Linked DNA regions of Homo sapiens: all the other regions are linked to region 3. Evidence: fine-mapped expression QTL. A gene starts in region 3. Each other region holds a variant in brackets. All regions are shown on one strand. Distances are from middle to middle. Region 1 overlaps MICU1 (mitochondrial calcium uptake 1). Region 2 overlaps MCU (mitochondrial calcium uniporter). Region 3 holds the start of DNAJC9 (DnaJ heat shock protein family (Hsp40) member C9).

What was found.
Region 1: its variant is fine-mapped to the expression of DNAJC9 in whole blood (TOPMed, PIP above 0.99).
Region 2: its variant is fine-mapped to the expression of DNAJC9 in whole blood (TOPMed, PIP 0.96).

Annotation. Positions count from the first base shown.
Region 1 is chr10:72,416,709-72,419,208 of GRCh38, forward strand. All of the region lies in intron 9 of MICU1 (mitochondrial calcium uptake 1), which reads right to left. Among named protein-coding and RNA genes, the nearest start is that of DNAJB12, 63 kb to the left of the region's middle. The variant CTT/C (reference allele first, on the strand shown) is at 961.
Region 2 is chr10:72,753,672-72,756,171 of GRCh38, forward strand. All of the region lies in intron 1 of MCU (mitochondrial calcium uniporter), which reads left to right. LOC124902450 (a long non-coding RNA gene) reads left to right here. Exons shown (of 2, transcript XR_007062189.1): 1 at 1-2,500. Among named protein-coding and RNA genes, the nearest start is that of MIR4676, 34 kb to the left of the region's middle. The variant C/T (reference allele first, on the strand shown) is at 1,050.
Region 3 is chr10:73,245,879-73,248,678 of GRCh38, forward strand. DNAJC9 (DnaJ heat shock protein family (Hsp40) member C9) reads right to left here and starts at 1,377. Exons shown (of 5, transcript NM_015190.5): 1 at 1,132-1,377; 2 at 810-950; 3 at 44-298. The coding sequence starts at 1,311. DNAJC9-AS1 (DNAJC9 and MRPS16 antisense RNA 1) reads left to right here and starts at 1,489. Exons shown (of 4, transcript NR_038373.1): 1 at 1,489-1,505; 2 at 2,415-2,572. RefSeq lists enhancers at 819-2,018, 1,284-1,623 and a silencer at 934-1,083.

The DNA.
Region 1 (2,500 bases), 830 kb before region 3:
CTACTCCATGTTTAAGGCCAAGTTCGAATTGTACTTCCTCTAAGAAATCTTACTCGGTCTCTTCAGCTGGCTCTAATCTTCCTCCTTAGTGCTTCAAAAAGATCTCATACCTTTAATAGAGTACTCAACATATTTATCATTGCACTTGATAAGCATTTACCGCCACCATACAGAGGACATGCAAAGATGAATAAGGCACTGCTCTCAAGAAGCTCAAAGCTAAGTGAGTTACCTTGCTTTATATTTGTTTAAAATCTGTTTCGTTCCAGTAGGAATGCTAAGTTCTATGAGGCAGACACTGGTGTGCTCACTACTGCATTCCCAGTATTTAGAAGACTGCTTGGCACATAGTGGCTGATCGATAAATATTGAATATAAATGTGAATATAGAATTACAGAGTTCTTTGCATACATATTTTTCTCTTACTAGACTATTACAGACTTAAGAAATATATATAGTTGTGCTGGGTGTGGTGGCTCACGCCTGTAATCCCAGCACTTTGGGAGGCCAAGGCGGGTGGATCACGAGGTCAGGAGATCGAGACCATCCTGGCTGACATGGTGAAACCCTGTCTCTACTAAAAACACACAAAAAATTAGCCAGGCGTGGCAGTGGGCACCTGTAGCCCCAGCTACTCAGGAGGCTGAGGCAGGAGAATGGCATGAACCCAGGAGGCGGAGCTTGCAGTGAGCCGAGATCAGGCCACTGCACTCCAGCCTAGACAACAGAGCAAGACTCCGTCTCAAAAAAAAAAAAAAAAAAAAGAAATATAGTTGTAAGGATAAGGGAAGGTCTTTTTCACAGCACCTGGCTTAGTGTCTTGCACACAGCAATGTCTGCCATTGAACTGAGTTATAATTTTCAATTTCATCCTTAAGAAGTTACTAGTTAGTAGCTTCTGCATTCATAAACATAGAGGATCACCACTGTGAATTACATTTATGAAGTCTCAGAAAACT[CTT/C]TGTTAAATAAAAACATGGTGGTTTTTCAGAGCATCAATAGAGTAATTTTTGTCAAGCACGGCAGGTTCCCCAGTTCTTCAAACTATTACTTAGAGATAAAACAGCTAGAGACACTGATGGAGCATTGCATCTCTCGAGCAGTGGCTCATAAGCCTAGCTGCACATTAGATTTACCTGGGGACCCTTTGTATTAGTTCGTTCTTATGCTGTTAATAAAGACATACCTGAGACCAGGTAATTTACAAAGGAAAGAGGTTTAATTGACTCACAGTTTTGCAGGGCTAGGGACACCTCAGGAAACTTACAGTCATGGCAGAAGGGGAAGCAAACATATCCTTCTTCGCATGGCAGCAGGAAGAAGAATGAGTGCCTGGTGAAGGGGGAAGCCTTTTATGAAACCATCAGATCTCATGAGAACTAACTCATTGTCATGAGAACAGGATGGGGGAAACTGCCCCATGATTCAATTATCTCCACCTGTTCCCTCCCAGGACATATGGGGATTATGGGAACTACAATTCAACATGAGATCTGGGTGGGGACACAGCCAAACCATATCACCCTTTAAGAAACACTTCTGGAATTTCTCATGCAGAGGGTTAAGAAAACCCCAGAACACTGATGCCTGGACCCACCTACTGAGCCTCTGATTTAATTGATTTGAAGAGGGCCCAAACAACCACATTCCTTAAAAATTCCTCAAGTGATCCTATAGTAGAGAAGCACTGCTTTACAGGAAGAGTATGATTAGGAGAAACAGCACTTTCTTAAGGAAAAGACAAGATCTGGAATAGGAAGCCTTGGATTTTAGACCAGACTCTGAATGGGTTATTAACTTCTCTTTCTGTCTCTATATTCTCAAAAATACAGTATCTAACAAGGCTGTTAGAAAGGAAGAGAAAAATGGCTGTGAAACATTGCATGGTCATTAATTTATATGCAAAAATTTAATACCACCACTAGGACCTTCAATCTCTTAGGTCTTGTTTGATACCTTGATACAGAACCTCACACAGAAACTGATTAATGTCAGCCAAATGAAAACTTACATTTTCATGTTAACAAATCCAAAGTGGAATAAAAGAAGCAATTAGAAAGCAGATGGTGATTCCCCTTTTATAGGAAATGGTCCTAGAGAGATGGACTCGTAACCTTAGGAGCAAAGGCCCTTCCTTGACACTCACTTTAGTTAATTGCTATGTTCACAAACTATTTAATCAACATGAGAGGACAATCAATCTTAATCTCGTTGCTAACACAGGCTAGAAATTCTGGGCCAAAAGTAATTTAACACCGCAGATTTTCATCATCTGACAAAATTTGTCCTTTCATTTTAGAGCTCTTTTGCAAGGTCTTCAGATCCTAAATTAACTCCTGCCAATGCTCAAATACTCTTCCTTCAAGGGAGATGCCTCCAATGCCCCTTATTGCTTTTAAGTGTAAACTCACAATGAAATATGAATTCACCTATCATGATAGATAATTAAAGTCAAATCAATATCTGGACCAACCTTTAAAAATAAGCATGGTCTAAATA
Region 2 (2,500 bases), 490 kb before region 3:
TGAGACCAACCTGGGCAACATGGCAAAATCCTGTCTCTATAAAAAATACAAAATACTAGCTGGGTGTGGTGGTGGCATGCGCTTCTGGACCCAGCTACTTGGGAGGATGATGTGGGAGGATTACCGGAGCCTGGGAGATTGAGATTGCAGTGATCTGTGATCACGCCACTGCACTCTAGCCTGGGTGACAGAGCAAGAAGACTTTGTCCAAAAAAAACAAAAAAACAAAACACACACACACACAAACCCACACTATGAAGTAAGTACTGTTTTCAGCCATATTTCCCAGATGAGGAAACTGAGGTTTAGAGTGATTAAGTAACTTACCCTAGATTATATTGCAAGTAGCAATTGTTATATGGTAAGTAGCAGAGTAGGCAGAGCCACCACTAGCTATGAGAGACTTCTGTTTGAATTAGGAAAGTTACCCCCTGTGGTGAACCAATGAGGAAGCCAAACTTCCTCTGGCCTGGCACACCACCCGAAGCAGTAACTTGGGGACCTGTGCTTAGATGCCACTTATTTCAGCATCTGTGAGCTGAACATGGGCAGAATTTCAGCCTTATTTTGCTTCCTTGATGCCTTTGTACTGTGCACAAACTGAGCCACCCTTACCCAAAGGTCTTAAAGCCCAGATTTCAATCCAGGTCTATTTGAGTCCGGAGCTTATATTCTGTTTAATAGCATGCTGCCAATTAATGGCAAAGTTAAGACTTCAGCCAGATTTTCTGATCATCAGTATTTTCCTCCTTCTATTATGTATCATGCAGGTTGGTTGAATTACAGATGACACTGGAGGCGGGGCATGCTGACTCACACCTGTAATCTCAGCACTTTGGGAGGCTAAGGCAGGGGGATTACTTGAGCCCAGGAGTTTGAGATGAACCTGGGCAACATAGACCCTGTCTTTACAAAGAATTAAAAAATTAGCCAGGCATGTTGGCACACACCTGTGGTCCCAGCACTTTGGGAGGCAGAGACAGGGTTTCACCATGTTGATCAGGATGGTCTTGAAGTCCTGACCTCAGGTCATCCACCTGTCTTAGCCT[C/T]CCAAACTGCTGGGATTACAGGCATGAGCAGCCCAGGAGGTTGAGGTGGCAGTGAGCCATGAGTGCATCACTGCACTCCAGCCTGGGCTTAGCTAGACACTGCCTCAAAAACAACAACAACAAAAAGCCCAACAAATGACACTCAAGTCCCATACTGCCCAGTTTGCAGACATTTTTTGCAGATGATGTTAAAGATTTCTTAGCACTTCTACAGAGTTATAACCTCACATATTTCATAACAAACTGTGTTTTTATGTGGCTCAAGATTTGTATTGAATTCCTGGTATCACTACCTAGTTAGCTGTGTGACCTTGATCAAGTTAGGAAGGGAATATAATAAGTATAGTGGTTAAAAGCATGGACTGTAGTCTCAGACTACCTGGGGTCAAATTCTAGCTATTTCTTACTAGATATGTGAACCTGAGATTTTTTTTTTTTTTTTTTTTGAGGCAGAGATTTGCTCTTGTTGCCTGGGCTAGAGTGCAATGGTATGATCTCAGTCACTGCAACCTCTGCCTCCCGGGTTCAAGCAATTCTCCTGCCTCAGCCACCCAAGGAGCTGGGATTACAGGCATGCACCACCATGCCCAGCTAGTTTTGTATTTTTAGTAGAGACGGGGTTTCAGCATGTGGATCAGGATGGTCTTGAAGTCCTGACCTCAGGTGACCCACCCGCCTTGGCCTCCCAAAGTGCTGGGATTACAGGCATGAGCCACCCCACCTGGCCAGCTTGGGCAATTTACTTTATGTCTTTAAGCCTGGTGTGTAATGTTGATGGTAGAGTGGGGAACAATTATACCTATCCAATGAGTTGTGAGTACTATATGAGTTAAATACATGAAGCATTTAGAATAGTGCCTTGCGCATAAATATAGTAAATACATTAAGTACTATTTAAGTGCTAACTGTTGTTATTGTTATTAATATTAGATCACTATGAGTTTGCACTTGTAGCCTGTAATTCAAAGCAATTTGAACGGCGGAAGCATAAATAGATAAATGATCATCTAAATATGGCATCTCTTCAACCCTTGTTGTTGTTGTTGTTTTTGCCAGATAAGAGTTTTCAAAGGTTGTGCCAGAGTACTTGCTTTAGGGATATTAGCCCAATTGAAACCATTTTTTTTTTTTTTTCATTGAGACAGAGTCTCTCTCTCTGTTACCCAGGCTTAGAGTGCAGTGATATGATCATAGCTCACTGCAGCCTCAATCTCCCAGGGTCAAGCAGTCCTCCCACCTCCGCCTCCTGAGTAGCTGGGACTACCGGTGTGCACCACCATACCCAGCTAATTGTTTTCTTTTACATGTTTTGTAGAGACAAGGTCTCGCTTTGTTGCCCAAGTGGGTCTCGAACTCCTGGTCTCAAGTGGATCCACCCACCTCAGCTTCCAAAGTGCTGGGATTACAGGTGTGAACCACCACACCTGGCTAATTTTTTGTGTTTTTATTAG
Region 3 (2,800 bases):
TGGAAGCAGTCAAAATATAAATCCACAGTATTCAAAATCTTACCCTCCTTTTCCTTGCATTCATCTTTTGTTTCGATTCTTTGACAAAGGCATTATAGGATGGGACCTCTCCGGCGTCAATAGCTTGCTGAATGATATTCCTTATCCTGGGTTCCTCTGTGTACTGCACGCAAAGCACAGACTCCATGATCTGATCCATGTCACCCTTGAAGTCCAGATAGGCCTGCTTAATATCAGCCAGCTCTTCTTCCGAACCTTTGTATGTCTTTTCAAAAGCTTGAATGTCCTCTAAAGATATCTGATGATAAAGGAGATTTGCTTTAACTTTGGGAATTTTACTTTAAATAAAACGTACGTTAGTAAAACTAGAGTTGGGTGTTGAATTGCTGCAATACAACAGTTGCTTGAGTTGAAATTATTGAACCAGATTTTCTATGCCTAAGCTTCTCCGGAGTCCTCCTTTTTAAATCCAATCTTCATTAACTGCTAACTAGGGACCAGGGAAGGGAAATTTAAGTGAAATTTCCAAGAGTGAGAGGTGATCCGGAATCAGGACTTACATTTGGATATGTAAAATAAAGCGCATCCGGCAAAAAAAATAAATCGGCCCTTTTCAGTGCAACAATCACATTAACAGGAAATTTAAAGCCCGTTTCAGTAAGCGTGCGTGTATCTGTATTTCAAGGCCAAACTCAAAATTCCTAATTCCTACAAAATTAACACAAAATACAAGATCTTAGAGGCAGTCAATAAAGGTTTGTTGATTGAATGATGGTAACAGTCACAAAGAAACCTCCAGAGTCCTTTACCTTTTTAAAGAGTAGCCGCCAATACGCCTCCCAGTCTCGGTCTTGGGTGAGCACAGGAGAGTCCTCGTCCACTGTTCCCTGCTCATCGTACACTGCTCTCTGTTCTCTGTCACTGAGAACGGAATAGACTTTTCCCAGGATCTGAGGGCAAAGAGTATCCGTAAATCACCCCTGCTCCTCCCACCGAAACGGCGGCGCGAGAAATAAAGATCAGAAGGCGCCAAGCGGAGCTCAGCGCGCTCCCCCGGGGCGGGGCCCGGTAGCCAAAAGGCTAGGGGGAGGCCCGCGCAGCCGGTCGGCTTCGGGGCGGGACCCTGCATACCTGGAAGCGGCGGGTGGCGTCCTCCTTGTCGCCCTCACCCACCCGGTCCGGGTGTACCTGCAGGGACACCTTGTGGTAGCCTCGTCGGACCTCGCCGTCGGAGGCCTCGCGTCGCACGCCCAGCACCCGGTAAAGGTCGGCGGTGCCGAACACTTCCTCGCAAAGGTCCAGCAGCCCCATGCCGGGCGGAGATACGACCCCGGAGGAAGCAGCCGCTCCCAGCTGCGCCGGGTACAACCCAGGACTGCTTCTTTTTCGCGCCCAAAAAGCCCAGGGCGCCTGCGTCACAAGCACTGAAGGGGCGTGGCCACGCCGCGCATCCGCGCTTTACGGCGGCCGCAAAATGAGGTGTGGCGAGTCAGGCGCGGGCCCGGGTAAGTAACGCCGGCATGTGGAGTCACAGTCCCCGGCCGCGCGCAGGAGCTAGGTCTTCAGGGAAGTGATGTTGCTCGGGTCTCTCCTCCCCTTGCTCTGGAAATCTGGCGTCCGTCTTACCTTTTAGTGTCCAAGAACAACTTTTTCAAAAAGTTCATATATTAGCTTGAATTTACAAACTGCTGGCCTATTTTTTTAAGTAGAAAACGGCCAAACATCAGCATTCAGCAGTTACACATGGTTCAACTTAACAGATGTGTTTTTTCAAAAATGTTCTTGAAAGGAATAGGTAAAGCTGTAGACCCAAATAATTTTGCACCCCACTGGTTGGAAATGCTGGGGTACTTTCCCTCTAGCCCTGTAGGAAAAAACCCTATACTGAAACCCAAAAAGCACAAAACACGGGTCTTCCAAAAACTCTTACCTAATAGGACTTTCACCTTACACATTGGTGGAGAGAGATAACATGACCCAAGCCTCCGTCTTAATAACATAAACTGCTGAAGCAAAGGCTCTTTCTTTTAATACTCTGTGAAGTTCACAGCTGGGTTTGAACATGTTGGATCCCAGGTGGCAGCAGAGTGGGCTGGAGCAATCATCCAAGAGATGGTGAGAAACTTGGGCCTGGAGACCCAAAGCAAGGTTGAGGCTGGGGATAAAACTTTGTTAGTAGGGTAAACTCACAGAGGAAGTATGTGTATACATATCTTAAAGGATAAACAATGCTAAGTGAATACCCGAGTTGGCAGAAAATACCTTATCAAATATCCCCTCACTGATGTAGCATTTTTCAGAATCATTCTGCTCTGCCAATAAGTTTCTGCAAAGCCTCAAACTCTCCAGGATACATTAATATCTTTTAAACTTCCCAGAGTTGCCGTGATTTTCAAAGCATTTCTCTTTCCCAGATCCAAGATCAAACTCAGCTGAAGTCAGTTCCTCTCAACCTGCCCTGGCATCAAAGTCTCAAAGCAAGTGGGGGCCAACCAGCAACAACCCCAGGGGAGCTTTGACAACCACAGAATTTGAGATGGCTGGTAATCGTTCTCAGAACATAAAACACAAAGTAAGTCGGCACATTGATAGAACCTCCTCTATAAATTTCCTATATCTTAGTCACACACCAGAGTTAAGCCATCTGTCTTTGCTCATTTTTCCCTCTATGGACAACATAATATGTTGGGAAGGGCTTTCCAGGAGGGCATAACCGGGAGATGAATCTTACATCACTGGGCAAGTTTCCACCTCTAGGCCTCAGCTTCCCTATCTGTAAAACGGAGATAATCCTACCTGC